Regions from separate parts of the Homo sapiens genome. Here regions 2, 3, 4, 5, 6 and 7 are each linked to region 1. The links come from fine-mapping of genetic effects on gene expression. A gene starts in region 1. Each other region holds a variant in brackets. All regions are shown on one strand. Distances are from middle to middle.

Region 1 (4,109 bases):
AGTGCGGATGACCACGGCCGACTGCTGCAGGAGGTACAGGCATGGCCCAGAGGGGTGTGAGTGCGGAGGCGCTGCGCCCGCTCATTCCCACACCCCCTCTGCTGCCTCCACCGGCACAGAGCTGGGCAGCCAGGGGCTCCCCTCCAGCCTCCCTTCGGCAGGGTGGCCGCTGGCACAACCACCTGTAGCTGTGTTGCCAGGGCTTCAGGTACCTGCAGGTGAACACCCCATTAGGTGACACACAAGTGCTTAATAAGTCTGACCGTCTATGCATTCCGGCTAGTTGGAAACCTTTTCCTAAAATCAAAAGCAGACACGTGCTGAGCCTGGCGGCTCCCTACCTTCTGCTTTTCTTTGGCTTATCAAACCGGAAGTCCGCGGGGTACAGGTGCATCCTCACCATGTGATCCTTCCGGTCTCTGCTGGTCTTGAACTTCTCTGTGCAGCCTTCTACCAAGCACTGATACTGAAATGGAGACCGTGTCACCTCCCTCTGACCCCTGGCCCTCCCCCACCGCCATGCCCCCGTAGCAGAGCTGCCAAGGGCGGAAAGGTGTCCCCGGCCTTGCCCGAGCACCCGAGAGCTGGGGGCAGCACTCTGAGCCCATCACCAATGGGGGGTGGCCTCGGCGGCTGTGCAGTTGTCACCCACCATGTCCTGCCTCTCAGACAGGATCTGGAAGAGCGAATCGTGCCACTCCAGGATGTGGGCGTCCAGCAGGTGTCCGGAAGGGAAGGCCCGCTTGCAAAAGGAGCAAACATTTCCGTGCAGCGTGTGGTAGTGGTGCTCGTAGTCGTCCAGGGCATCGAACACCTGGCAGCAGCCGGCCACCTGGCAGGCAAACGCGGGCACCCTGCCAAGGAGACGTGCTTCAGGAGCCCTTCCTCCGGTGCGAGGAACCAAGCTGGACTTTCTGCACAGTTTCCCTTTGAGACGTCCAATAAAGCCCCTATGCATCTTTTGCAATCCCAAACCCTCTTTTTATGAATTAAGTTTCACAAACAGGCTAGGTGGTGGAAGAGTCGGCCACGCCAAAGCTGGACAGGCACAGCGCCTCGGTGGGGCGGCCGCACATGGAAGAGCGGCAGCACAGCCCCAGGGACCAGGCACCGGTCAGGGAGGCGGCGCAGGAGTAGCACTGGCTAGGCACTGCCCATTCGCTTACCTGGGCTTCTCAGGCACGTCGGCCACCTGCATGATCACGTCCTGGAGGTAGAGGTGGCGCTGCACGTCCCCATCCTGCAGGAAAAGTGCGCCGTGGGCGGGGCCAGGTGACTCGCGGCACGCCCACCGCGTCAGGCCTCGCCCACACCCGTGGCCCCAGTCATCCCGCGCTCCGGTCCCGCCCCACAGCCTCAGGCCCCGCCCACTCCACGTTCCGGCCCCGCCCCACCACCTCAGGTCCCGCCTGTCCCAGGCTCCGGCCCCGCCCCGCAGTCGTAGGCCCCTCCCACTCCAGGCTCCGGCCCCGCCTCGCCGCCGTAGGCCCCACTGGATCCTACAACTACTTTTTCCCTCTTTTGCTCACGCACCTCGAAGAACTGGTGCTCCCGCGGGAAGCGCACGGGGCGCGCAACGAAGCGAAAGGGCGCGGCCCCAGCCGCGGGATCCCGCTCTACAGGCAGCGGCTCCGCCGCCCCGGGCCCCGCAGCGAGGCGGGCGCACAGCGCGGGGGGCAACTGCATCACCCCGGGCGCGGGCGGGCGCAGCCTGTCGGCCACCGTCCGCGAGCCGAGCCGGACGTGACGTCACGCTCACTTCCGCCGCCGTCGGGGGCTGCGCGGGGGCTGTGGCTCCGGGACTGCGGTGAGTCCTGGCCGAACGCGGGCGCGGGCGTGATGAGGGGGTTGGGGGACTGCCAGGCCCGGGGGGGCCCACGAGGCGACGGGGCTGGCGGGACGCGGCTCTTCCCGCGCGCTCCCTCTGGCTGTGCAGCGGTCCCCGAACTCTGGGGCCGAAGCCCTTCGGGCCTGCACCGGCCAGGCCAGCGTCTTGCCCCGCGGCCCGACACTCAGCCGGGGCGGGGCGGAGCGGGCCTCCGGGTCGTCCCGGGTGTCCCCTCCCAGCCCTGGGAAGCCGGGTCGCAGGTCCCCCTCTCGCACGCCCTCTCCCGTCCGCCTTGCCCCGCCTGTCGTCTCCCGCTGCAGTCCCTGGATCTTGTTCCCTCTAAACCAGTCGCGAACTGGAGCCAAAGTGACTCCAGTTTTATTGTAACCGTTTTTAATTTAAAGCCCTTGGGTGACTTCCCGTTACTTTAGTTCAAAGGCCCTTTCCTGGTTTGTCGGGGTCCTGTCGACCTCTCCAGTCCCCGCAGCTCCCGTGAAACACAGGACCTGTGCTAGGTGCTCAGGGCGTGTGGGGGAAGGCATCACAGGAGGGCGCGGCAGCCTTGTAGGAGAGACAGACGTCAGAGTAAAGAGTCACCTAATTAAAATGGTGAATGACAACACACGCGGGAAGCAGTGGACGCTTCAGATCTACTGCAGAGAATGGGCCCAGTGGCGGATAGAGGCTTTAGCTTTCTCGTCTGTCACCCAGGCTGGAGTGCAATGGTGCGATCATAGCTGATAGATCGCTGCGGCCTCAAATTCTTGGGCTCAAGTGGTCCTGCTGCCTCAGCGTTCCAAAGAGCTGTAACTGCAGGCGTGAGCCACCATGCCTGCCCCTGTACTTTTTCCATGTTTAGATACACAAATATCTCTGTGTTACAGTTGTCTAGTGTTCAGCACCGCCACCTGCTGGGCAGGTTTGTAGCCCACGAGCAAGAGGCTCCTCTAGGTGGTTTAGGTGCATTGTAGGCCGTACACCATCCAGGTCTGCGAGTGACTCTGATGATCGCACAGAAGGAAATCATGTAACCATACGTTTCTCTTTTTTTCTTTTGGAGATAGTGTCTCTCTCTGTCGCTCAGGCTGGAGTGCAGTGGCGCGATCTGGGCTCACTGCAACCTCTGCCTGCTGGGTTCAAGCGATTCTCGTGCCTCAGCTTCCCAAGTAGCTGGGATTACAAGTGTGCGCCACCAGGCTTGGCCAATTTTTGTATTTTTGGTAGAGACTGGTTTTCACCATGTTGGCCAGGCATTTCTCAGAATGTTGAGTGATGCATGACTGTACTTTCTGTCTCTGTAAAAGCCTTTGGGCTCTTGACATTTTCCACAAGTTGTAAAATAACATTTTTCAAACCAATTTGTACAGTTAGCTTTGAGCTCTCAACAGAGACTCTTTTTCACGTCCCTCTGTGTTTTAATCACTTGGAGTGTGTGCTCACTAGGAGTGTGTGCCCCGCTTGTCCGTGGTGGAGTGTGACATGCGTGCATTGCTTCCCTCAGCACGCGTCCCTGCGGTAGCTCACAGCCTCTGTGAGGAGGACGTCAGTCCCTCCCAGTCACAGTTGCTGGGCCTGTCAGTTTGTGTGATTAATAGTAAGAATTCAGGAGCATCAAGAAGGCCAAGTCAGCGGCCATGGCTAGACGTTCCTCCAAGAAGCAGCCACGGCTAGATGTTCCTCAGAGCTGTGTTTTCAGTGGGACGCTGTGCATTTCTGGCGGGACAGCTCTGTTGATGATTAGCATCCCCCGCCCTTGCCCTCTAAGTAGCGAGAGCACCCTTCCATGACCGTGACACCCCAGAGTTGCCCTAGGACTTTTCCAAAGGTCTTCTGGGGGGAGGGACTCTGTGCGAGTACGGGCTGCCCTCTTGGAGGCCCGGTCCCCACATTCAGGGAGAGCAGCAGGCTCCTCATGGGATGAACACTCATGACGTGCGGGCATCTGTGCTTCTATTTCTAGAAGAGATACGAAGTTTCCTGAAGGTAGTTTTTATTTTTTTTATTATTATTTTTTGAGACAGAGTCTCGCTCTGTTGCCCAGGCTGGAATGCAGTGGTGTGATCTTGGCTCACTGCAAGCTCCGCCTCTCGGGTTCATGCCATTCTCCTGCCCCAGCCTCTGGAGTATCTGCGACTACAAGCGCCCGCCACCACCCCCGGCTAATTTTTTTGTATTTTTAGTAGAGATGGGGTTTCACCATGTTAGCCAGGATGGTCTCGATCTCCTGACCTCATGATCCGCCCACCTTGGCTTCCCAAAGTGCTGAGATTACAGGCGTGAG
Region 2 (4,091 bases), 68 kb after region 1:
AGGAGCAGAGGACTTGCCAAACTCTGGGACTGACGTCCAGCTGTCAGCCAGAGGACCCCAGAAGAGAGTGGGAAACAGGCTGCGGGGATGTGAGGAAGGTCCCCAGGGGAGAGCGGAAACAGGCTGTGGGGATGTGAGGAAGGCCCCCAGGGGAGAGCGGAAACAGGCTGAGGCCAGCGGAGTGGTCACTGCATCCCGGCCAGCTGTGACGCAGCAGGTGGGTGGAGTAGGGCTTGGGGGCATCTTGGTCTTCAAGGTCCACCCAGATACCAGCAGCCCATGAGGCCTGGGCCAACTCACTCTGCAGCCCCGGATGGGGGACAGGGAGAGAAGTTTGGAAGTCGTGGGTGGCAGAGCCTTCCCTGGGCCTGAGGGCCTTGTGGATCCCCCAGAACTCAGGGTCTAGGTCCCTGCTGGACACTTGGAGCCCGCCCCACTCCTCAGCCTCCGGGACTTTGCCCTTTTCCAGAGCTCCTCATCTGCAGGATGGAGCCAGGGCCCTAAGGAGGCCCAGGTGTGCCTCCGAACAGGCACAGCTCAGCCCCAAGGGGCTGCCCACCTTGTAGGGCCCAGTGTGCTGGCAGGACCTCGAGACACCACCAGGCCAGGGCCCTTACTCACCGGGAGAGTTCAGGACCAAGACGGTGTGGTTTGTGGCCTGGGGCCACACAGGGGACCAGAAAGCAATCTCCACGGGCGGTGAGGGGCACTTGTACTTTTATCACGGACAACGTGCCCCCATCCACATCCACAAATCAGTGCTGTCCAGGCCAAACCCAGTAGTCCCTGTCCAGCTGCTGCCCTCCGAGGGCCTCGCCCAGGCTTCTGTCACATTGTCACTCGCCAGGACGATGTACAGCAGCTGTTCCCCTCTTACCTGACGTTTAAAAGCACATGCCAGTTGTAAACACTTACAACAAGGGAGAAACGAGCAAGGGGAAAGTGAAACTCGCTGGGGACGCAGCCGCAGGACCACGCTTCTGTTCCTGTTGGGGTGCCCGGGTGGGTTTCACAGGTCGCCTCCAGTTCTGCAGGCTGAACCCGTCTGCCTGGGCACCCCGCACTGCCTGCCTCCTGGGCACTCTGGGGCGACATGGAAGGAATTGCACTTGTCTCAGGTTTCATGCACGCAGTCAGGAGTCTGCACCAAGAACGGTCCATCAACGCGGGAGTCCTCCCCGGGAGGGGCTTCCGTGCCTCCCATTCTGGGCACTTCCAGACCTTCTGCAAGAAGTGCTGTCCTTGAGTCATTGTTTTGTCCCGAGGCTGCTGCGAGCAGGGGGACAGGTGAGCACGTGTTGGAGGGTGGGGACCTGCGGGACAGCTTCAGTCCAGGCACAGCCGCAGGTCCCGGCTGCCCTGCTTTCCCTGGCCCAAGAAGAGCAGCCCTCAGCAAGCTGTGGGTACAGTCCCGGCTCACGCACAGCCTAGAGCGCACTGCAGGGCCCCAGCATCCTCGCCTTCATGTTCACCTTTGTTCCCTCCTGCTTTCCAGCTTTGGAGTTCTTGTTAAGAGGGACTTGAACCACAACGCTATAAACACACCTGCATTCCCTGTTTTCTTTTGTACACACAAAGCTTACAACCTTTACTGTTTCCAACTGGAAAACCAGTTTTTCCAACCCCTTTTAAAAAACAAATGATCCTTTTATCGTACGCCGAAAGCCCTACCCATGACAAGCCCACTTCTGCATTTGACTCTGTTCACTGACCCTTCGTTTCCTTCCTAAACCGACTCTTTCGGTAACTTTCAGTGAAGAGGTGGCTTTAATAAATATATTCTCAGGGCCGGGTGCAGTGGCTCATGCCTGTAATCCCAGCACTTTGGGAGGCCGAGGCGGGCGGATCACAGGGTCAGGAGTTTGAGACCAGCCTGGCTAACATGGTGAAACCCCATTTCTACTAAAAATAGAAAAAATTAGCCGGGCGTGGTGGCGGGTGTCTGTAATCCCAGCTACTCGGGAGGCTGAGGCTGGAGAATCGCTTGAACCCAGGAGGCGGAGGTTGCAGTGAGCCGAGATTGCGTCATTGCACTCCAGCCTGGGTGACAGAGCAACACTCCGTCTCAAAAAAAAAAAAAAAAAAAAAAATATATATATATATACACACACATATGTATATATATATTTATATATACGTATATGTGTATTTACATATATACGTACATATATATATTTATATATATTCTCCAGTAATCTCCAGAACCTTTGTGTGGGTCAGGGTGAGAGGTGCCACCAGGATGTAAACAGAACAACTGAGTCCTCCAGGTAGGAGCCAGGTGCGATCAGCAAGACCGCGAGTGTGGGAGTCAGAGGTGCCTCCTCAAAATGCATCCCCCGTCTGTGGCATAGCACACAGGCCCCGGGGCCCCGTGGACAGGGCTGGTCCCAGCGAAGGCCGGCCTGGGGTAG[G/T]GGGGTGGGACGCCAGAGGCTGCCCGCAGCAGGAAGCTCCCGCAGATGCCAGGGCCTCTTGTGCCACTTGGCAGAGACCCCAGAAGGAGCCAGGGGGCAGCATCAGAGCCTGGGGCCCGGACAGGGGTGCCCAAGGGCACAGCAGCTGCAGGCCATTGGCAAGGCCAGAAGACGTTGAGTAGAAAGCTGGGGGCGCATGGAGAGACCCCGAGAAGGGGCTGTGCAGCTGGGGGTCCTGCATTTGCCGTTTGTGTTTCATGCGGCGATTCTGAAACCAGGTTTTTATCTGTAGGAAAAGCAAGATCAGAACAGGGGTGAGACTAGGCCACCAGCCCACCCTTGCCCACCCCTGCCCACCCCAGCCTGCCCGGCCCACCTCACCTGGACCTCTGAGAGCTGCATCTCCCTGGCCAGCCTCTTCCGCTCCAGAGGGCTCAGGTACTGGTGGTGCTGGAAGACGCCCTCCAAGGTGCGGACCTGCTCCATGGTGAAGGCTGTGCGGACACGGGGGGCCCGCAAGGTATTTGGCTCCTTACTCAACCCTGACATAGAGGGTAAGGGCATTTGGCTCAACATGCCACCCCATGGGGCAAGCTCGTGCCCACGGGTAACAGGTGAAGACAGCCATGCTGGGGGCTGGGCAGGGCAGATCTTCTCACCTGACAGTGACCAGCAGCACCCCCGCCGCCTCCCAGGTCACATGCGGAAAGGGGGCTCAGAGAGGGGGCTCAAGAGGGGAGGGAATGTTAACAGCAGCTTGGGCCTGCCCTCCGCTCAGTCCACTCAGTTCCGCCCCATCCCACACTTCCCTTCCAGAAGCCGGTTCCCAGGATGCCCTTCCCACAGCCTTCCAGGCCGGTAAGGTAAGAATCCATTATATGCAAAGGCCTGGCGACCCACCCAGGGGCACCCATCCCTGTCCCGGGCTCCGTCTCCTCAGCCAGCGGAGGCCAACTCAGTTAATCCCCAGGCCCACTGTGGTCAAGTCTGTTTCCTAATTTCTAAGTTAAGGAATGGGGGCTGGCACCAAACGGCCCCACGAGGTGGTCTGTGGAGCTGGGTCTGGGTCCCAGGAAAGGCCAACGTGGCCAATCGAGCTCGACATTAAATGCAAGTCTGACCAAAATGCTCGCTGGAGTTTCTGCGGAAGGAAGCGTATTTTACAAAATCTGTCTTAACGTTAGCCTGAAAGCACATGGTAGACCCAAAAAGCAAATGCCTTCTGGCAGGGAGGGCTGTAGGACTGGCATCAGAAAGGGGGTTGCGGGACAGGGATGGCTGGCTTTTTTGGGGTGGGGCAGGATAGCTAGCTGGGGAGAATACATTTAAATTTTCATTTCCCTTAAGTACAAAGTCACTCCATAAGGATCAGTCAAATTTTTAAAAATGAAAACTTGTAGATGATGTCAACCCCACTTTTGACCAAGTACTACCTTAAACCTAAAAGTGGTGATGATGTCACAAAGACTAAAACACAAACGCAGAGAACCTTTGTTCTCAGCAGACAACAGAGCATCTGGGCGGCCACAGAGGGAACTTCAGAGTTTCTGCAGGCATCGGGGTCACCGCCACCCCTGCAGCGAACCTGCAGGCTCTTTAAAGACAGCTGTGCTCCAGGTGACCCGGAATGGGCTTGAGCCTAGACGCTGAGCAGGCACCGGCTGTGCTGGGGGGCGGGGG
Region 3 (4,109 bases), 120 kb after region 1:
CCCCGAGGGCTGGGGGCAGGGCTGGGGCAGGGTGGGGAGGGCCCGGGTACCTTTTCAGTTACCAGCCTCTCCTCTGCCAGCTCGGGAGCCAGAAAGAACGAGTCATAGGAACCTAAGAGAGAAACCCGACTGAGCTTTCCTCACCCCTGGCGAGCCGGTGCTGGACTCGGCCTGAGGGGAACCCACACACTCACCGTTGGCAGGGGGTGGCTGGAAGAGCACAGCCCCGTCCTCAGCAACCAGCACGGAGTCCAGACACAGGTAGGCTGTGGCAGAGCTTGGGTCAGGGCGGGTATGCATGCTGCCCCGCACTTGGGGCTGGCTGGGGGGAAGGAGCTGCGGAGCCTCAGTCAGGCCGGGCAGCCCCCCAGCCTCCCCATTGCACGGGCACGCACCTGCCAGTGCACGCACATGGCCTGACCCCAGCCCCCGGGGTCCTCGGAGCTGCCTCCTCCCAGCCCTCCCCGAGGGTAGCGCTGCCCCAGCCGACACAGTGGCTGCAGCGGCATATCTGCGGCTGAAAGGGAGCCAAGCGGCAGGGAGAACACGGTAACTTGAAGCCCCCGTGTCACAGGCCCCGTCCCGAGTCAGGGCCCACGGGGCAGCCACGGGCTCACGGTGGACGGACACTGGAGCCGGGTGTGTCTCCGATGGCCTCTCCCCCAGCCCTTTCAGATGCTGCCCTCATCACCCCCAGGACGTTTTTACGTCTCAGATGCACCGTCCGTCTGCCCTGATGTCTGGCAGGGCTAGGCTTTGACGGGGCAGACCCGTGCAATGCTGAAGATTCCCTCCCCACTCCAAAGCCAATTGCTGCCTCCCTGGGGACAATGTCACTGTGTTGAGAATGTGTGGGCGAGGGCCATGGCAAAGTCCCCGTTCCTCTTTACGGCACAGTCACCGGTTTCAAGGCCCACCTTGCAGGCATCTGTCCCCACACCTCCCTCGGTGCTGCAACCCAGCAGGCACCCACAAGGTGCTCCAGACGGGAGCCGCCTGTTCCGTTCACCGGAGACACTGTCCTGGCTGCCCCTGGGTCCCTTGGTTCAGGTGGGGGCCAGTTACGCATGGGACGGCAGGGGTGATGGGACAGTGGGGGGGCGTGGGACGGTGTGGGGGGTGGGACGGCGGGGGTGTGGGACGGCGGTGGGGGGTGGAACAGCAGTGGGGGGTGGGGACGGCGGGGGGGATGGGATGGTGCGTGCGTCACCTGGGTGCTCAGGGCGTGTCTGCAGTGCGCGGAGGCAGGCCAGGCACAGGGCCCACAGCTCGTACTCCCGGAAGGGCCGGCCCAGCTGGGACAGGAGGTCCTGCAGGGACACCCACTGTGGGCAGGAGAGCGGCGAGGTCAGTGTGGACACCCCTTGCCAGGGCCCGCCGCCTGGAGAGGCATGTCCGGGGGACAGGCCAGGGTGAGGCCCACTCAGCCCCTGAGTAGGCGCCCCCCACACCTGATAGAAGGGCTAGGGAGGTCCCTAAGTCAACTCCAGCGTGTGGGGGCCGTGGGGAGACTGGGGCCCTTGGCCCTGTGGGTGGGAACGTCCCACGGTGCAGCCACTGCAGACGACAGTGCTGCCGTTCCTTGAAAAGCTCAACATACACCTCCCAGGTGACAGCAGTTCCACACGGCCACATTCCCCGAGGAACCGAGGGCAGGGCTCACGCATACGTGCACACCCATGTTCCCAGCAGCACGGCTCGAAATAGCCAACACGGGGAGCACCCAGGCATCCACGGACGGACGCAGGGGCAGTGTGGATGGCGCTTGGCCTCGGGACAGGGATGGGGGGTTCTCACGCAGGCTCCCTGGGGAGGAACCGTGAGGACAGTGGGCTCAGTGAAGAGACCAGACACACAGCTCTGTCCATCCCACTCCCACGAGGCCCCTGGACAGAGCTCATGGAGGGGAAGGGTGGGACGGGGTGCAGGGGCCAGGCTCATGGAGGTGGAGGGCGGGACGGGGTGCAGGGGGCGGGCTCGGGGGTTGGGGTTTCGTGTGGGCTGATGGGGACAGCTGTGCAACAGCGTGAACACACCCAATGCCGCTGAGCTGTGCTCTTGCAGAGGGTTGAAGTGGTGGCTTTTGTTCGGTGCATTTTCTCACATACACACACACCGTGACACCAGGCATGCGTTCAGCCTGGGAGGCCACTCTCCACTCCAAGGCCTCACGGACAGCTGGGACCAAAGTCCACCCTCCAACAGGTGGCTCGGCCACCCTGTGCCTCCGTGTGCCCTTCGGGAAGGTAGGCTGTTGTGCGTGGGAAGGCGTGCCGCCAGGGAGAGTGGTGGAGGGCGACGGGGCACTGCGCCCTTGTCCTTCAGATCAACGAGGCCTGGTGGCTTGAGGGCACCCCCGTCCCCGGGCCAGGCGCTGCCTGGCAGATGGACTTG[C/G]ATGCAGGCCACTGACTTCAGGTGACCTTGCCCGGAGGAGCTCACGGGGACACAGCTGGGGGTGGCTCACTGAGGAGCCAAGGAGGGCAAAATGCACTTGGCCAGGCCTTGGCCCAAGCGTCTTCGGCTGGACAGAGGGGCCGACGGACCAGGCCCCCCAGAACACTGGCTCCAACAGCATCCTCCATCCCTCGTGAGGAGCAGCTGACCAGGGGCAGCACTGGGCTGGGGAGGCCCCATCCTGTGTGGAGGCCACGTCCGGGCAGCCGCACCAGATCCCAGCGTCCCCGCGGAGGCAGCGGAGGTGGCCCAGCACCGACACCACCAAGCCCCACAGATGAGCAAGCTCAACCCACAGCTTTGGTTTCTAACTTTTAAACCGTCAGAATAGGAAGATGAGGAGGGCTGTGAGCATCAGGACTGGGGACACGGAGCCCCTGAAATGACATCACGGAGCCGGGGCTGCTGGCCTTGCTTCCCGGAAGAAAATTAATCCCTCGGGACGGCCGTGCGGGGCTGTGTGAGGAGCCGGGCAGGGCTGAGGAGGCGGCTGCTTTCTGGGTCATCCAGAGGCAAACGTCTACCCGAGAGGCCACGCCTGGGTGACAGCATCCCCAGCCGCAGCCACAGCTTCCTTCAGAAACGGGGCAGCTCAATGAAAATGTCTTTAATTATGGAGCGAGGGTGAAGGTTAATTCTCTGAGTTAAACAAAGCGTTTGCATCTGTGGAGAGGCCCGGCCCCGGACTCACTGACCGCCGACCCCTCCACCCACACACAAGACCCAGGCACCCACCTGCTCCGCGGCTGCACTTTCCAGCTGCCTAGCTCCTTCTGGAATTCTCTCATCGTCCCTGGGAGTCTGGGCTTCACCGCTAGCATCTCGAGGGTCTGCAGGGGCCTCTGCTGGCCCCTGGCTGGGGTGTGAAGTCTCGGGCTGTCCTGGACTGCCGGGCACCCCAGGGCCCCTGTCCGTGCTGCGGCCTGCACAGGGAACCCGTCCCAGCTGGTGTTCCGGCTCCTGCTCCGGCCACAGCCTGCATTTGGGCTGAGCCTGGAAGCTAGAAAGGCCATTTTTCCTGTCCAGAAAGGCCTTCCTGGGGTCCGGAGAGAATAATTCCGATATGGGCAGCTGGCTTTTCCCGCGGGTCAGCGGCAGGCAGAGGGTGGCCTCGGGGCTGTCGGACAGCAGCCTAGGGAACGTCTGCACCTTCCGCAGGCGGCTTCTCCTGAGGGCGTCTCTGTCCAGCTCCCCGAGGGTGCGCTCGGCATCCAGGACGAGGCCGGCCAGCCCCTCCCGGCTGTGGCTCTCGCCATTTCTCACCGGGGTGGACAGCAGAGCCTTGGTTGGGGAGGCTCTGGGGCCCCGGCTCGTCTCAGACTCCGGGCCTTCGGGGGTCGGCAGAACCTCCGGGTCAGTGCTGGGGTCCCCGGGCGGCCTCCTGGGCCCAGCGTTTCCTGGGGCAGGTCTCTCCCGCCAGCTGCTCTCGCTGACATCTGGGCACAAGCAAGATGTGGTCACGGCTGGGTGCCCCTCCCGCCCCTCCCCTCTCCTCCCGCCCCTCCCCTCTCCTCCCACCCCTCCCCTCTCCTCCCACCCCTCCCCTCCCACCTCTCCCCTCCCCTCCCCTCTCCTCCCCTCCCACGATCACAGACCCCAACCCAGGCTCTCACAGGAGGGGGCTCCCGCCTTCCTCTCCTGCCCCACTCATCAGG
Region 4 (4,109 bases), 54 kb before region 1:
CGTGCAGGAAAAGTTCTGCATGTAATATCTCCGTTCATAACTCTGGGACTTTGTTTTTCAGCTTTTGAAATGACATTAACAGAAGGAAGTAAGTTGGAGAAGAAACTCTTTTATTCAACCTTTGCCACTGTGAGTAAACAGTGTTCAACCGGAGAATCAAGCAAATTCCAGTCACACAAGTTGCTGGGAATTTCCTTTTAAATTTTATCATTAAGTATCGTTTCTTTCTGGTCAGAACTGCCAGCCTCACCTTTAACGGGATCAGATTGGTTCCATCAGTGGGTCTTGATGTTAGGAAAAAAGTAGAGCATGTACAAGTTCAAAAGTACAGAAACCTTACAGGGGCTTTTCTTGTTTTTCCTGTTATGTGAGGTCTGTGAATTGCACCCTCAAGCAGCTCCTTTATTGAAAATGCAGTTTCAGCCGGGTGGGTGTCGAGCATCCGTAGCCCCAGCTTCCTGGGAGGCTGAGGCGGGTCGTTCGAGTCCAACTGGGCAGCAAAGCAAGACCCCGTCTCAAAAAAAAGACTTTTTTAAAAAATGAGGCCGGGCGCGGTGGCTCACCCTGTAATCCCAGCACTTTGGGAGGCTGAGGCGGGTGGATTGCCTGAGCTCAGGAGTTTGAAACCAGCCTGGGCAACATGACGAAACCCGTCTCTACTAAAAATCCAAAAAATTAGCCGGGCGTGGTGGCAGGTGCCTGTAATCCCAGCTACTCTGGAAGTTGAGGCAGGAGAATCGCTTGAACCCAGAGGCGGAGATTACAGTGAGCCGAGATCACGCCACTGCACTCCAGCCTGGGAGACAGAGTGAGACTCTGTCTGAAAAAAAAAATGTAACTCATTTTACCCATGTTTTTTTAGATCATTCCAATTATTTGGAATAGGCTCAAATGTATTCTAATAAGATAAGCTGAAGCTTTAGAGCAATATTTTATAAGATTTCTGCCAGTAACTTAAAGTAATTCCTCTAATTACCATCATAATTTTAATTTTCTTCCCTTTGAGGCAGAGTCTTGCTCGGTCGTCCAGGCTGGAATGCAGTGGTGAGATCTCAGCTCACTGCAACCTCCACCTCCTGGGTTCAAGTGATTCTCCTGCTTCAGCCTCCCGAGTAGCTGGGATTACAGGTGCCCACCACCACACCTGGCTAATTTTTGTATTTTTAGTAGAGACAGAGTTTCACCATGTTGGCCAGGCTGGTCTTGAACTCCTGACCTCAAGTGATCTGCCTGCCTCGGCCTCCCACAGTGCTGGGATTATAGGCGTGAGCCACTGCACCCGGCCAGATTACCATTTTAATTCATGTCTTTCACTGGGAGAAAGTCATACTTCGGTGTTTTAATTGTTCTATAAAATAAAAATTAAAAGTGGTTTGGGCACCTGAGGAAGGGGTACAGATGCGTGTGTGTGTGTGTGTGTGTGTGTGTGTGCGCGCGCGCACACCTGGGGACACACGTGCACACAGTGTAAGAAAAGCAGATGCAGAGTTGAGTTCTCACGTCCTACTCCAACACAGAGTAGCCCCTGATACAGGCCACCCATCATCCAGTTGATGACATGGTGAGTGACCAAGATGGGTGCATCTGAGGCTCTTTAGATGTGAGCTTGTTGGACATACACAGTGGCTCCTGAATGACCGTCACCTAGACTGGTAGAGAGAGGCCGTGAAAATCCCCGCGCCCAGGCCCAGCTCTGATTGGGCAGGTGTTCCTGCCGCTGAGTCCCCTCCCCGGCCCCCTGGGCCCCTGTGAGCATGAGTGAGGCAGAGCCAGGGAGAGACGGGCGGACATTGGCATCAGGCTCTGTGAGGATACTGCGCGTCCAGCTCTGTTTCTGTTCCTTTTCCTGCCAGGATGACCGGAAAGAAGGGATGACCGCGTTTGTGGAAAAGAGAAAGGCCAACTTCAAAGACCAGTGAGAACCAGCTGCCCCTGCTTCACACCTCTGCTTGGAGAGGACAAGTGCAGCCTGTCAGTTTTAGAAGCAAGTAAATCATCCTCTTTTCAAGAGCAGTGTCCGTGGTGTGCAGTTCCTCTCCAATTGCTGC[G/A]TGGTCGTGGCCCGACCTCTCACGGCATGACAGCCTTCGTCACCCAGCCTGTGAGGGTCCTGACTGGAGCACCTTCTAAATCTAAGATTCTGCTGAGGAGCCCCCGCTGGTCCCTCTGGGCATGCTGTGCTCGGACGGAAAGCGGGGCCTGCGGGTCCTTGTGTCCCTGCCGCTGAAGAATGGGGCTGCTCTGAGGGAAACGCTGTCTGCTGCCTTCATACAGATGCTGATTAAAGTGATAGCGATTCAGATTACACCACGCCTTGTAGTCATGTCTGCAATGAGCATTCTGTCATGTTAGTTGTTTTTTTAAACTTTTTTGTTTTTTCACTGTAAGGAACAACATTCAAACAAAACAAGTTTGTATAGTCAGTTGCCTCACATCATACTTCCAGGGTAGCCACTGTGAACAGCTGGGCTTGTGACTTCCTAGAGTTCTGTGCACGCACCCACACACCCCTGCACACGGGCACAGGCATGGTCTATGGTTTTCTTCCACGCCCACTCACGTCGAGCCCTTTCCTCACGAGAGCCCACCCTATTTTCTTCCTACTTCTGTCATAAGGAGCTCTCTGTTCAGTTTACTGCATTCTTCTCTACTGTGGGAACACACGACGTCAACTTGATCATCTTAACCACTGTGTTTTAGAGACGGGCTGGAGTGCGTGGCTCAGTCACAGCTCACTGCAGCTTGAATCTCCTGGGCTCAAGTGATCCTCCCCCCCTCCCAAGTAGCTGGGACCACAGGGGCGCACTCCCACACCCAGCTGACTGTTTAAATTTACCTTTTGTAGAGACGGGGTTTCCCCGTGTTGCCCAGGCTGGTCTGAACCATTTCAAATGCACATTTCAGCGGCATTAAGTACGTTCTCGTTGTGCAGCCATGACTATCCAAGAAAGCTTTCATTTTCCCAAACGGAAACTGTCCCCGTTAAACAACAACCCCTTTTCTGCTTCCCTCCAGCTCCTGGCACCCACGCTTCTACTTCCTGTCTCTATGGAGGGACCTCCATTTATCCCTTTGGGTCAGGCTCATTTCACTCAGCCCCACCCCAAATCCCTGGGTTGAAATCCTAACCCCTACCGTGACTGCATTAGGAGGGGGGACTTTGGGCAATGACTAGTCACAAGGGCAGAGCTCTTCGAGTGGGTTTAGTGTCCTAGGAGAGAGAGGGTGGAGCTCCTCCAGTGGGATTAGTGCCCTATGAGGGGGCGGAGCTCCTCCAGTGGGATTAGTGCCCTATGAGGGCAGAGCTCTTCAAGTGGGATTAGTGCCCTATGAGGGGGCAGAGCTCTTTGGGATTAGTGCCCTGTGAGAGGGCGGAGCTCTTTGAGTGGGATTAGTGCCCTATGAGAGGGCGGAGCTCCTTCAGTGGGATTAATGCCCTAAGAGAAGGCAGAGCTCTTCCAGTGGGATTAGTGCCCTATGAGAGGATGGAGCTCTTCCAGTGAGATTAGTGCCCTATGAGAGGGCGGAGCTCCTCCAGTGGGATTACTGCCCTATGAGAAGATGGAGCTCTTTGAGTGGGATTAGTGCCCTATGAGAGGGCGGAGCTCCTCCAGTGGGATTAGTGCCCTATGAGGGGGCGGAGCTCCTCCAGTGGGATTACTGCCCTTAGGAGAGCCCTGAGGGCACTCTTTCACCCCTCCCACAATGTGAGTGCTCTGTGGGAAGGTGCTGTCTGTAAACCAGGGTGGGCCTCATCACACACCGAACCTGCCTGGAGCCTTGGCCTCCAGAACTGTGGAAAGTCAGTGTTTATCAGCCACCCAGACCATGCCACTGCATCACAGCAGCCCAAGCTAAGGCACATACTGTCCAGAAGGTTTGTGCCTGTTGTGGCATGTTTCACCATTTGATTTTCTCACTAAATGACAGTCCTATAACATTCTTTTTAGTGGCCCTGACGTTTCATACTATGGACATGTCATCATGCCCTTGGTTCTAGGTATTTCCCCCAGGGAAGCCCACCTGCCCCCAGCTCAGTGCAGACGCCAGAGAGCGTTTGCCGGTGTCTCCTCCACTTGGCCCCGCAGCTCAGTGTGCGTAGGTGGTCTAGA
Region 5 (4,109 bases), 41 kb after region 1:
GCTGCTGACTGAGGTGCACGCAGGTAGGCCTCCCTGGCCAGCGCAGGTGGGGCTGGGGTCCAAGCTCAGAGGGCCCGAACAGAGCCCAGGCAGAAGCCGCGGGCCCGGGAAGCTGGTGGTGTTCACGGTGCCAGTTTGCTGCCACAGGCATCGACACACAGGTATAGGCAGAGCCTGTCTGTCCCCAGGCTGATGTGAGGAGGGGAGAGCCCTGTCCCAGAGGGAGGCAGTGGCCGAGGGCAGGGCACGGCCGTGAGCTGAGACTCCAGTGTCCTCAGCCTGTGTCTTCCAGCCCCTCCTCGGCCCGGGGCCCTGAGGCCACCCAGCATTTCCTCCCCGGCGGCCACTGAGCATGTGGTCGTCCAGAGCATCAGGCCTCAAAGGCACAGCCGTGCCCACAGCACTGTGGCCCAGGGCCACCCTGCCAAGCTCTCCAACCTGTCACTGGCAAGCTGGGAGTGCCAGTGTAAGGTACCAGGTCCTCCCTGAGGGGTCCACAGGGCACAGCCTGGGGGTGCTGAGAAAGACCGTGTCTCTGGGAACCTCCCTGGCTCCTGCCTGAGGTCGCGGCCTGCCTGCCTGATGTGGGGCCGTGTGTCCCACAGCGTCCGGGAGCCTCCCCGTCTTCGTGGTGGTGGTTCTGGTGCTCCTGGCAGTTGTGCTGGTCACCCTGGCAGGCATCATCGTCTACCGCAAAGCCCGGAGCCGCATCCTGAGCAGGTGAGGGTGGTGGGGGCTGTGACGGAGGGTGGCGAGTGCTTCCCGTGCTCAGCTGCCAGAGGAAGGAGTGCCCAGCACGGGCCCATGGTGGACGGCACGGACACCCAGGCTCCTCTGTGCCCCGACGTCATGACGCCCCCCGGCTTGGGCTGAGTTTGAAGGGCCTTCCTGGCTCCACTCGGCCAGTGCCACTCTGGACTCCACCTTCCCCTGAGGCTGGGGCGGGGCATGGTTTTGGTGGCCGGTTGGGCTTGGGGCAAATCCAGAGAGGCCCGGTGGGGTCCCCCATACCCTGACCCAGCCCCGTGAGCACCCTGCCAGTTTCCTGCTGAGCCCTGCTCTAGGGACCTGGACCCCCACACAGCAGGAGACCCCCACGCAGCAGGACACACTGGCCCCACAGCCTCCAAGCATCTCCCGCCCACCTGACTGGGGCCCCCAGGACATGGAGGGGGTGTCCCTGCCTCTTCAGGGTCCGCCCCACCTCCTGGGCCTGTCTGTCTCTCATGGCCACAACCTCTCGCCCTGAAGCCTCTCGGGTCGGCTGGAGCTGGGAGGGAGAGACTCGGGGTGTGGTGCTGGGGCCCCATGGCCGGACACTGACCATGCGCCCTGTGCTTCCTCCCCAGGAACGTGGCTCCCAAGACCACAATGGGGCGCTCCAACCCCCTGTTCCACCAGGCTGCCAGCCGCGTGCCGGCCAAGGGCGGGGCTCCAGCCCCATCCAGGGGCCCCCAAGAGCTGGTCCCCACCACCCACCCGGGCCAGCCCGCCCGACACCCGGCCTCCTCGGTGGCTCTGAAGAGGCCGCCCCCTGCTGTAAGCACCACCCCTGGCGGGTTCATGAGGCCGAAAGCAGTGCCCAGGCCCCATCCTGCGACCCCAAGTGCAGCCCGAGGCCAGCAGAGCCCTTTCATTAAATTCACGCACAGGCCAGCGGTGGCCCCGAGGCCCAGAGCAGCTGCTGTGGTCGCCCTGCTGGGAACACTGAGGCTTTGGGAGTGGGCACTTCCCAGACCCCTTTGAGCCATGATAGAATCTGAGCTTGAACTTAAACTTGGGGGCTCCCAGCCCAGGGAAGCTTCCTGGCCTCCACAGAGCCCATCTGAGGACAGTGTCGAGACACAAATGCTCTCCGGCCCCCAGCTCGGGATCACACGGCTGAGGGGAGGAATGGGGCGGGGCCTCTCATCTGGGGTGGGGCCCTGTGGGCCGCGCAGACGCCTCCAGCACACACAAGAGGCAGGAACCTCGGATCCTGGAGCTGGGGGTGCTGGAGGGGCACGGGGGTCCCAGCTCTGACCCAGGCTCTCGGCCCTGTCTCCTCCAGCCTCCGGTCACTGTGTCCAGCCCACCCTTCCCAGTTCCTGTCTACACCCGGCAGGCACCAAAGCAGGTGAGCAGTGGTGATTGGGCGGCCAAGCC[T/G]TCTGAGGGTGTCCAGGCCTTCCTGATGGGATTGGGGTCTGTGCACTGCACCGGGGGCCAGGGATCCCCAGGTGGCCCCTGCTGTACACAGAAGGCTGGTTAGCCCGACCTCGTGAGGACATCAGACAGAAAGGCAGGTCAGCGAGGCCACAGGAAGGCAGGAGCTCAGTCCTGCCCTGCGTTGGAGCTGGTTTGGGGGTCCTGGCTCCTTCTCCTTCCACTCAGACCTGCTCCGCCCACCAAGCCCCTCCCAGAGCTGAAGCTCTGGCAGAGAAGAGGACTCCCTGGGGCCCTGCAGGACAGATGGGTGGGTGGGCTCAGGGCAGGGACACGTTCCGCGCTTCCCTTGGGTTTGGGGGCTTTGGGGGTTTTGGAAAGATCTCTCAAAACCCGAATCACTGGAGCCCTGGCATGCTGAGGGTTAACTCCCAGGCCTCCGTGTCCCCCCAGGGTTGGGGTCCTGTCCCTGCGCCCTGGCTCCCACCTCTGGGCTAACCTTGGAGCCCTTTTTGGACCCCGTGGGGGCAGCTCATTGGCCTCAGCCCTGGGAAACCGCTCTGGCAGTGGGTGGAGAAGGACCCTTGAGCTCCCTTCCTGGGGCCACTGACTCAGCTAGGGCAGCAGAAAGGGCCAGGCTTTCTCTCTGGGGCCTGGCACGGGGCCCCAGTGGTACCATCGAGGTCCACTTGGCATTGCGGGACATTGTGAGCAGCCTCTGTCCTCAGAGAGGGCAGGACGGTGGCGGGCAGGCTGGGGCTGGGGAGGTGCCTGTGTGAAGAGGTCCCACGGTGCATCTCCGGGGACCCCCTCCACAGAGGTTCGTGGTCAGCCCTAGGACTGGGCTGTGCATGGAAGACCTGGGGCAGGAGAGCCCCTGCCCTCTGGGTTGAGGCTTTTTTTTTGTTAACATTTAATTTTGAACAAATTTTAGACTTACAGAAAAGTTGCAAAAATAGCCTAGAGAATCCTGCATGCCCTTCGCCTGGCCTGCTCCCGAATGGCCACAGTGTGGGCGCGCAGCCGAGGCTCCACGTCACCAATGCGACCCAGTCAGTACCGCCTGCTCCCTCTGGACGCCCTTCTCCAGCCATGGTCCCCCCAGGCACTCAGCCCCCGGCCCCTCTGCCTTTCCTCAGCTTGCCCTTTGGAAGTGTGGCCAGCAGTGTTTTCAGAGTCCCTCAGCCTGGGTTTGTCCCGTCTTTCCTTGTGTGGATGAGGGCCCTGCACTGTTGGCGGGGGCAGCACTGGACACACCCTTCCCCAGGCACAGCCCAGGCCTGGCCCACATGCAGCTTCGGTCACGGGGGATGTTGACACAGCGCCTAGTTGGAGCAGCGTCCACAGATTTTTCCTTAGAAAGCTCCTGTCTTCTTTTTATAGTGAGCAGATGCCTCAGGGAGATACCTTGAGACTCTTTGAACCTTAAGCTTGGACCCACTAGTTTTGGCATCCATTGGTGAATATTGGCTGCAATAGTTGTTCTGTGCTGTTTGCCTAATAGTGATTTTCTCTCTTTTTTTTTTTTGAGATGGAGTCTCGTTCTGTCGCCCAGGCTGGAGTGCAGTGGCGCGATCTCAGCTCACTGCAATCTCCGCCTCTCAGGTTCATGCCATTCTCCTGCCTCAGCCTCCCAATGTATCTGAGACTACAGGTGCCCGCGACCATGCCTGGCTAAATTTTTGTATTTTTTTTTTCAGTAGAGACGGGGTTTCACTGTGTTAGCCAAGATGGTCTTGATCTCTTGACCTCGTAATCTGCCTGCCTTGGCCTCCCAAAGTGCTGGGATTACAGACGTGAGCCACCATGCCCGGCCCTAATAGTGATTTTCTATTTCTCTCTTTCCTTTTTAACTTTTTATTTGAACTAACTTCAGACTTGTACGTGAGTTGCAGAAATAGTCCTAGAAGGGGTCTGGACAGGCAAAATGGGGGCCTGAAGGGGGCAGAGAGATTTCTGGCCAAGGA
Region 6 (4,094 bases), 68 kb before region 1:
CTTCCCCCAGGGACCCGCGTCGAGTGCGAGGGCGCAGTGGGTCTGGGGGTGCCACGGTGTCAGGGGTGGGACCTGGGAGAGCTTAACGCGTCCGGAGGGGGGCTGTGAAAGCCTCCAGCATCGCCAGCGAGCCGTCAGTTCGCGTGTGCGCGCGCCTGCGTGTGCGCGTGTAGTCACAGGGCTGCAGGGACACAGGACCAAAGTACAAAGTACACTCGCAAAGTACAAAGTTCAGAAGCCGAGGGCAAGTGCAGAAACGTCCCTCGCCCGGGAAGTTGAGCGCACACCCAGGCACGCCTGTGTTTCTGGAGAATCCCCGGTGCAGGCGGCCGAGTTTTCTGCTGCATCGCAGCCCGCGGGGGTTGGAAAGGCTCCCGCCCTGTTTTCAGGCGCGTCCCCGCCTCCTGAGCCCCGGTCCTCTGCCGAGGGGCCGCGCGCTCCAGTTTGCCAGCGTGAGCTTCACTCTTCGCTCTCGGCGTGGGCCTCCTGAGCCGTGTCTTACTTTCCTTTGATTCCCTCTCGTCCCAGCTGGAGAAAAGGCTCCCGGAAGGGTGACCTGGTGTCGCTGGATTCCACTCCCCATCACTCCCTAGCCAACCCCGCGAGCTGAGCTCCAGGCAGGGAGAGGGGCGGGTGCCTGGGAGTCGGGCTGACTCCCTGGGCGGTGGCGGGCAGGGGTCGAGCGTCCTCTGTCCGTCAGGGGCCCGCAGCACCAGGAGGCGACGCTGGATGCAGTGGCCATCTCCTCCTGCCTCCAGGCCATGGGGAACCCAGGGCGGATCCCGGGTCAGCAGGGCCAGCTGTCCACCAAGCTGACCCACCCGACATGCCAGGACTAAGGAAAGAAGGGCTGCCCCACACCCTTAGTCGGATGGCAAGTGTTTGGGGTGCAGCCCCCGCCACGAGTGTCACCTGTTCTGCCTGAGCAGGCTTCTCTCTTACTCCCTGCTCTTGGGCCTGAAGCAGAGCCGCTGGCTCAGTGGGGCGCTCCATTCTGAGGTCCCTGGCATGCACCACGGAAGCCCAGCGGGACCACCCACCCACCTGCCCCAGCTCCCCAGCGGAGGTCCTGAGATGGCAGATTAAATACTCTGGGGTTCTGAATTCCACAGATGAACTGGGTCCCCCACGGGTATGGCCAAGGGAACGGCCCACTCCCTAGTGGCTCCGTGTGAAATCGAGCTGCTGCTGCTCTCGCCGCAGGGCCCAGCTCACTGCCCAGACATAGGAGCACATCGCCCTGCGCACAGGCTGGGTGGGCACAGCTGTGAGGGAGGCCACCCCATGCCTCAGGCCTCCTGCACAGGCGTGGGCCTCGCCACTCTGGGTGGACAGGCTACTTTGGCCCCTCAGCCTCTGGGGACTGCTGCCCTGTTTTCAGCACCGTGTCAGGCACCATCTGGTCAGCCAGCTCCTCCAGCCCCGAGACTCCCGTGTCCTCATTCTCCTGGGCCGTTACGGTCGGCCAGTGCCCAGCCTTTGCTGGAAGGCTGTCCAGGCTGGGCTCTGGTCAGGCATCGATGTCCCCCAGGCACCTGGCCTCACCTCGCGTTGGGACAGCCTCTGCAAGATGGAACAGGAAGGGTCTGGCTTTGCCTCTGTCACCTTCTCCCGGTCCATCATGTCCTCCTGGCCAGCCCGTTCCTGGTTCCTGCGGGGAGCCCAGCCCGAAGGGGAACCGAAAGATTCTAACTTAACTCTAGTTCAGCCTCCCGGATCCTCCTGTGGAGCGGCAGGATCCCATAAAAGATACTTGGCTCAGCAACTTGCTGGCCAAGCCTCCCCACAGCGGTCCACACAGGCCAGAGGTAAACATGCCCATGCCCCACACCTGGAAGGCCTGGTGCAAGGAGGGGTGATTGTAGTGACTGAAATGGGAACTCTGGCTTTATGGCGCGGAGAGAGAAGACATGGACCCAAGAGCTGCAGGGTGGGGACAACCGACGCGCTCTTTGTCCCCTGGATGTGGTGCCACAGCCTGAATCCAATAGCACGGGCCGCTGACGCGCTGACCTGGGGCTGGGTTAGTCGCTCGTCCCCCTTGCTCTGAAATGGAGAGTGCACGTGACCACGGCCAGTCCTGGACAATCCTGCCATGCCAGAGCCACCAGCTGGAACACACGGACACAACCTCTTTTCCATCTGACTGGTACAAGGTATGTGCTTCTCCTAGCTCCAGAGGGCCTTGGGTGATGCCACCTATGGTGATCAAGGTGGCAACTACCCATGTGGCTTTGACTGAATCAGGCTTGTTCATTTTTTAAAATAGCTTTATTGATATAGACATCATGCTGTAAGACTTCTCCCGTTTAAAGTGTTCAATTCAATGGTGTTCAGTTTAGTTACAGAGTTGTGCCACTGTCACCATCATCCAGTTTAGAACTTTTTTGTTTTGTTTTGTTTTTTTGAGATGGAGTCTTGCTCTGTTGCCCAGGCTGGAGTGCAGTGACACTACCTTGGCTCACTGCAACCTCTGCCTTCCAAGTTCAAGCAATTCTCCTG[C/A]CTCAGCCTCCTGAGTAGCTGGGATTATAGGCATGTGCCACTACGCCCGGCTAATTTTTGTATTTTTAGTAGAGACGGAGTTTCACCATGTTGGACCAGGCTGGTCTCGAACACCTGACCTCAGGTGATCCACCTGCCTTGGCCTCCCAAAGTGCTGGGATTACAGGCGTGAACCACTGCGCCTGGCCCCAAGTTTAGGACATTTTCATCACCCTAAAAAGCAAATGGGGATGCCCCTCAGCAGTCCCCCCCATTACCCCTCCCTCCAGCCCCTGGTGACCGCTAATCTAGTTTCTGTCTCTGTGGATTTGCCTGTTCTGTACATTTCATAGAAATGGAACCTATTCAATGCACGGCCTTTGTGTCTGGCTTTTTTTACTGAGCATAACATTTCCAAGGCTTGTCCATTTTGTAATGTGTATCAGCGCTTCTTTCTTTTTTACTCCTGAATAGAGTCCATTGTATAGTCTAATACATTCTAATGTATCCATTGTTTGGATATATGACATTTTGTTTATCCATTCATGAGTTGATGGACAATTGGCTTTTTCCCTCTTTTTGGCTATTATGAATAATGTTGCTATGAACGTTCATGTCTAAGTTTTTGTGGACATTTGTCTTCATTTCTCTGAGGTGTACACCTAAGAGTGGAGTTGCTGTTTGACCTTTTGAGGAAACAACAGACTGTTTTCCAAAGTGACTGCACCATTTTCCATTCCCGCTGGCAGTGTACCAGCGTTCCCCGCTCACGTCCCCCACAACCCGCTGTGACTGTTGGGCTTTTTATTGCAGCCAGCACAGTAGGTGTGACGTCGTATCACTGAGGGGTCAGTTTGCATTTCCCTAATGATTCGTGATGCTGAGCTTATCTGACACTGATTATCTTCATTGGAGGAATGTCTGTTCAGTCCTCTCACTATCTTGGTAGTGTCCTTTCAGACATAAAAGTTTTAAATTTTGGTGAAATCCAATTTACATATGTTCTCCCTTTGTTGCTTGTGCTTTTGTGGCTACATTACTTGATGGAGGACGGGAGCTGCCCGGCCTCCTGGGTCGTTAGAAAGGAAACCTCTTGGCGGACACGGTGGTCCACTCCTGTAATTCCAGCACTTTGCGAGGCCGAGACCGGTGGATCACTTGAGGTCAGGAGTTCGAGAACAGCCTGGCCAACATGGCAAAACTCCCGACTCTACTAAAAAACTACAAATATTAGCCGGGCATGGTGGTAAGCACCCGTAGTTCCAGCTACTCAGGAGGCTGAGGCAGGAGAATCGCTTGAACCCGGGAGGCGCAAGCTATGATGAGCCGGGATGACACCACTGCACTCCAGCCTGGGTGACAGCGAGACAAGAAAGAAAGGAAAGAAGAGAAGGTGAAGGAGAAGGAAGGAAGGAAATAAACCTCTTTTCTGTCTGAGCCATTTCATTTTGGGCCTGTCTGTCCCAGAGGTTTAACTACACTAGTATAGAGCATCGTTTACTAAAGGTTTGTTGAGGTTTGTTGTTGATTTGTTTCTACTTACACGAGATGTCTTCATTTTTACCCTCGGTCTTGAAATAAAATTTTGGTGCATGTTCATTTTTGGTTTGAAT
Region 7 (4,109 bases), 26 kb before region 1:
TGAGGGGCGCATGCGCGGCTCCCTAGCCGGGGCGGTGGGTGGGGGTAGAGGGTGCGGGACCAGAGTCGAGGCCCCGCCTCTAGCCGCGTTTCCATGGCGACCACAGCCTCGGTCTCGCAGCTGCAGCCCCCGCCCCGCCCGGCCGCGAAGCGTCTGGAACCGCATCCTCCGCATCCACATCCGCATCGTCGTCCTCCCCGACCGCGTCCTGCAGCAGCTGCCAGTGGAGCCGCCTGTGAGCTATTTCCACATTTCTTGCAGAATGTGGGCGGGGGGCCCGAAGGGGTGCGGGGGTGCGAGGCGCGTGTGCGGGTGTGTGTGCGAGGTGCGTGTGCTCGCGAGTGCGCTTGTGCGTGGCGCGCGTGCGGATGAGGGTGTGAGTGCGTGTGTGCGAGGCGCGTGTGCGGGTGCGAGTGTGCAGGGCGCGCTGCACGGCCGCCCTCCTCCCTCGGGCCTCCTCTGGCTGCCCCAGGCCAGTCCGACCCCGCGGACCCGAGGGCGGTGGTCTCCAGGCTTCCCGTGACGGCGGGGCCCCGGCACGAGGATCGCAGCCTGGAGTTAAGGGTGTCTCCGAGGTGGGGAGGGGGTACCAGTCCCAGCTCCCGCCCAGCTCTGTCCGCCGGAGGCGGGGTGGGGAGGGCGACAGAAGGGGCGTCGGACCAGAGCACCGAGGAGCCGCTGCCCGCACGGGGGTTGGGGGTGGGCGGTGGGCTTGATGGGGGCGTCTGCGTGACAGGCAAGAGGTGGCCAGGAGGCCGGGAGGGGCGCGGCTCCGGAACCACCTGCAGCAGGCTCGGGTGCGGGGCCACAGGTGGCTGGGCTGGAAGCGGGAGCAGCTGCGCGCCCACTCCCCTCCGAGGGGCTGCGCCGACCCCGCAGTGCAGCTGCCTTTTAATAAGCGGGGCAGCCACAGCCCCCTGCAGCGCCAGGGGCGGGAGGCTGCGGTGGCGCCCGCGGGGGCTGGGCGGGACCCTCAGATCCGCAGTCACACGCGCTGGTGCCCGGCCCGCACAAGCCCACCTGCGCGCACCCCCCAGCGTGACGCAGCATTCCATGGTTGGGGGGGGCGCATGCGGAAGCGAGTCTGTGACGTGACCTCCAGCCGAGCTTCCGTGGACTTTCGACTGAGAGCCTGCACCCCCGCCCCCGCCATCCATCTGTCCATCTGCACGGCCTCACTCACCCGCGCCCCCACCCATCTGCCATCAGCATCCCACGCCTTCCCCGCCCCAGAGACAGGAGCCGGGCACTGCCTCCCTGCCAGAGCGCGGCGGGTGGGGCGCAGGGGACCCGCAGAAGATGCCGCGACAGCGCAGGTGCAGGGAGGGGCCGGGAGGAGAAGCAGAGGCGGCCCCCCAGTTCCACGAGCCGCGTGTCATCCGTGGGAGGAGGCCCCCATGACGCAGCAATGCAAAGGGAAGGTCTGGTGTGTGGGGTGGGGGGGTTGGACCCCACACACAGGCTAGTCCCCCCTTTCCAACCCCGCATTCCGCCCGGGGCGCTGGGCCCGGAACCAGAAGCGAGGCTCCAGTGGGCCCCCAATGGCTTTTTCTTCCTGAAGACGCGTCTCGGGCCTGTCTGCGTTGCCATGGAAACCCGCGATGACGTAAATTGGCCGTCCGAGGAGTTGGATTTGAAGTTTGGCTCGAAGGGGACCCCTCAAGCGCAGCTCCTCCTGGCGGGGGTCCTGCCCGAGCGGGGGTTCGGGCGGAGACTCCTGGCGCGGGCCCTCCGGGGCGTGGCCCTACCCTATGGCGCTGCGGGCCCTGGTGCGGGACTGCGCCCCCTTCTCCGCCTCCCCCTCGCCCGTCTGTAGAGAGGCTGGGCTTGCTCTGGGCGTCCGCTCCGGGGAGACCCCCGACCCCTCCTCCTCAGCGGCACCCCCACCCCCGCGGGCCAAGCTCCACCTCAAGCCCCGGCGCTGGCTGCCCTCGCCCCACAACCACGTCATTCCCCGGCCTCTCGGCCCTCCGCTGCTCCGACTCTGCTTCCACCGATCGCTCCTG[T/C]ATCTGAGCCCCGTGGCGCCTCGTCCGTCTCCGCCTGCACACACACGGACGCTGGCTGCACCGTGAAACCTCGCCCGCCGAGTGCCCATTGCCCCTGCCCGGGCCACGTGGGAACCCACCTCAGGAAGAGTCTTCAGCCCGGGGTGGGTGGTCTGGGGGACACCGCACGGCCTCTTCCAGAAAGGCCCGGCAGGCACAGGGTCGCCTGCGATGAACACACAACAACGAGGGGCACGGGTTAGGGCCCCAAAGCGCGTGGCCAGGTCCAGGACTGGGGGCCCTGTCTCCCCTCGCCTAGCTCCTTCCGGCTCAGAGTGGCCTCCCCCATCCCCTACCCAGCCCTCGTTCACCGGCCGCACTCTCGCCCACGCAGATCCTTCCCCCTCAGTTCTTTCCCCACGCAGAAGCTGCCACCTCCAAATCCTTCCTCCCCTGATCCTTCCCCCTTCAGATCCTTCGCCCCTCAGATCCTTCTCCCTCATGTCCTTCCCCCTCAGAGCCTCCCCCTCAGAGCCTTCCCCCCTCAGAGCCTTCCCCGCTCAGATCCTTCGCCCCTCAGATCCTTCCCCTCATGTCCTTCCCCTTCAGAGCCTCCCCTTCAGAGTCTTCCCCCCTCAGAGCCTTCCCCGCTCAGATCCTTCCCCCCTCAGATCCTTCGCCTTTCAGATCCTTCCCCCTCATGTCCTTCCCCCCTCAGAGCCTTCCCCCCTCAGAGCCTTCCCCCCTCAGAGCCTTCCCCGCTCAGATCCTTCCCCCCTCAGATCCTTCGCCTTTCAGATCCTTCCCCCTCATGTCCTTCCCCCCTCAGAGCCTTCCCCCCTCAGAGCCTTCCCCGCTCAGATCCTTCCCCCCTCAGATCCTTCGCCTTTCAGATCCTTCCCCCTCATGTCCTTCCCCCCTCAGAGCTTCCCCTTCAGAGCCTTCCCCCCTCAGAGCCTTCCCCCCTCAGATCCTTCGCCCCTCAGATCCTTCCCCCTCATGTCCTTCCCCCCTCAGAGCCTTCCCCCCTCAGAGCCTTCCCCGCTCAGATCCTTCCCCCCTCAGATCCTTCGCCTTTCAGATCCTTCCCCCTCATGTCCTTCCCCCCTCAGAGCCTCCCCTTCAGAGCCTTCCCCCCTCAGAGCCTTCCCCGCTCAGATCCTTCCCCCCTCAGAGCTTCCCCTTCAGAGCCTTCCCCCCTCAGAGCCTTCCCCCCTCAGATCCTTCCCCCCTCAGAGCCTTCCCCCCTCAGATCCTTCCCCCCTCAGAGCCTTCCCCCCTCAGATCCTTCCCCCCTCAGAGCCTTCCCCCCTCAGATCCTTCCCCCCTCAGAGCCTTCCACTCTCAGATCTTTCCCCCTCAGAGCCTTCCACTCTCAGATCTTTCTTTCCCCCTCAGAGCCTTCCACTCTCAGATCTTTCCGCCTCAGAGCCTTCCACTCTCAGATCTTTCCCCCTCAGAGCCCTCCCTCTCAGATACCTCCGCTCTCCGACCCTTCCCACCTGGGATCCTACCCCACTTGGATCGTTCCCCAAGTCGGATTCTTCCCCCCTCAGATCCTTCCACCCTCGGATCCCTCCCCCTGCGTCGGATCCTTCCCCCCGCGTCATATCCTTACCCCTTCGGATCCCTCCCCGCACCCCGTTGGGGTCCCTTCCCTTCAGATCGTTCCACCCTCGGACCCCTCCGCTCGGATCCCTCCCCTCCACCCCACCCCCACCCGCGCAATCCTTCCCCGTTGGGTCCCTCTGTCCTTGGATCCCTCACCCCTCGGATCCTTCCCCCCCCCCCACCCCCTCAATCCTTCTCCCTCGGATCCTTCCACCTTGCAATCATTCCACCCTCAGCTCCTTCCACCCTTAGATTCTCCTCCACGCAGATGCCTCCACATTATCTGTACTTGAGTGGCAGCAGCTGGGCAGAAGCTCTGTGACCGCGGGTCCCTTGCTCCTGTTCCCGTGGTGCCTACCCACACCTGGAACCCACAGCGGAGCCTGGCCACTGCAGGGCGAGAAAGACTGGTCACTGCTGGCTCTGGCAGTTAATTGGACATCCTCGCGCTGCTGTCACAAATTACAAGCAGGTGGCTTAAAATAACAAATTCTTTCACAGTTCTGGAGTCAA

The links. PIP is the estimated chance that this variant, and not a neighbour inherited with it, causes the effect.
Region 2: its variant is fine-mapped to the expression of TUBGCP2 in whole blood (INTERVAL, PIP above 0.99).
Region 3: its variant is fine-mapped to the expression of TUBGCP2 in whole blood (TOPMed, PIP above 0.99).
Region 4: its variant is fine-mapped to the expression of TUBGCP2 in whole blood (TOPMed, PIP above 0.99).
Region 5: its variant is fine-mapped to the expression of TUBGCP2 in whole blood (TOPMed, PIP above 0.99).
Region 6: its variant is fine-mapped to the expression of TUBGCP2 in whole blood (TOPMed, PIP above 0.99).
Region 7: its variant is fine-mapped to the expression of TUBGCP2 in whole blood (TOPMed, PIP above 0.99).

What each region holds. Positions count from the first base shown.
Region 1 is chr10:133,306,521-133,310,629 of GRCh38, reverse strand. It overlaps TUBGCP2 (tubulin gamma complex component 2), which reads left to right and starts at 1,758. Exons shown (of 18, transcript NM_006659.4): 1 at 1,758-1,807. ZNF511-PRAP1 (ZNF511-PRAP1 readthrough) reads right to left here and starts at 1,716. Exons shown (of 9, transcript NM_001396060.1): 1 at 1,534-1,716; 2 at 1,167-1,240; 3 at 653-854; 4 at 342-466. The coding sequence starts at 1,686. ZNF511 (zinc finger protein 511) reads right to left here and starts at 1,716. Exons shown (of 6, transcript NM_145806.4): 1 at 1,534-1,716; 2 at 1,167-1,240; 3 at 653-854; 4 at 342-466. The coding sequence starts at 1,686. RefSeq lists enhancers at 1,231-1,525, 933-1,628, 2,352-2,581 and a silencer at 1,272-2,121.
Region 2 is chr10:133,238,538-133,242,628 of GRCh38, reverse strand. It overlaps VENTX (VENT homeobox), which reads right to left. Exons shown (of 3, transcript NM_014468.4): 2 at 2,793-2,953; 3 at 701-2,697. The coding sequence ends at 2,323. Among named protein-coding and RNA genes, the nearest start is that of VENTX, 2.7 kb to the right of the region's middle. RefSeq lists an enhancer at 3,987-4,091. The variant G/T (reference allele first, on the strand shown) is at 2,412.
Region 3 is chr10:133,185,755-133,189,863 of GRCh38, reverse strand. It overlaps KNDC1 (kinase non-catalytic C-lobe domain containing 1), which reads right to left. Exons shown (of 30, transcript NM_152643.8): 6 at 3,190-3,890; 7 at 1,211-1,325; 8 at 195-266; 9 at 51-112. Among named protein-coding and RNA genes, the nearest start is that of KNDC1, 28 kb to the right of the region's middle. The variant C/G (reference allele first, on the strand shown) is at 2,395.
Region 4 is chr10:133,360,678-133,364,786 of GRCh38, reverse strand. It overlaps ECHS1 (enoyl-CoA hydratase, short chain 1), which reads left to right. Exons shown (of 8, transcript NM_004092.4): 7 at 62-129; 8 at 1,854-2,302. The coding sequence ends at 1,919. Among named protein-coding and RNA genes, the nearest start is that of FUOM, 4.7 kb to the right of the region's middle. The variant G/A (reference allele first, on the strand shown) is at 2,049.
Region 5 is chr10:133,265,359-133,269,467 of GRCh38, reverse strand. It overlaps ADAM8 (ADAM metallopeptidase domain 8), which reads left to right. Exons shown (of 23, transcript NM_001109.5): 18 at 1-23; 19 at 606-720; 20 at 1,350-1,539; 21 at 2,051-2,116. Among named protein-coding and RNA genes, the nearest start is that of ADAM8, 9.5 kb to the left of the region's middle. The variant T/G (reference allele first, on the strand shown) is at 2,146.
Region 6 is chr10:133,374,722-133,378,815 of GRCh38, reverse strand. It overlaps LOC124902563 (a long non-coding RNA gene), which reads left to right. Exons shown (of 2, transcript XR_007062395.1): 1 at 1-2,156; 2 at 3,610-4,080. Among named protein-coding and RNA genes, the nearest start is that of PAOX, 2.5 kb to the left of the region's middle. RefSeq lists an enhancer at 1-461. The variant C/A (reference allele first, on the strand shown) is at 2,503.
Region 7 is chr10:133,332,960-133,337,068 of GRCh38, reverse strand. The region is part of intron 5 of ZNF511-PRAP1 (ZNF511-PRAP1 readthrough); the gene reads right to left. It overlaps CALY (calcyon neuron specific vesicular protein), which reads left to right and starts at 173. Exons shown (of 6, transcript NM_015722.4): 1 at 173-235. RefSeq lists an enhancer at 1,243-1,918. The variant T/C (reference allele first, on the strand shown) is at 2,007.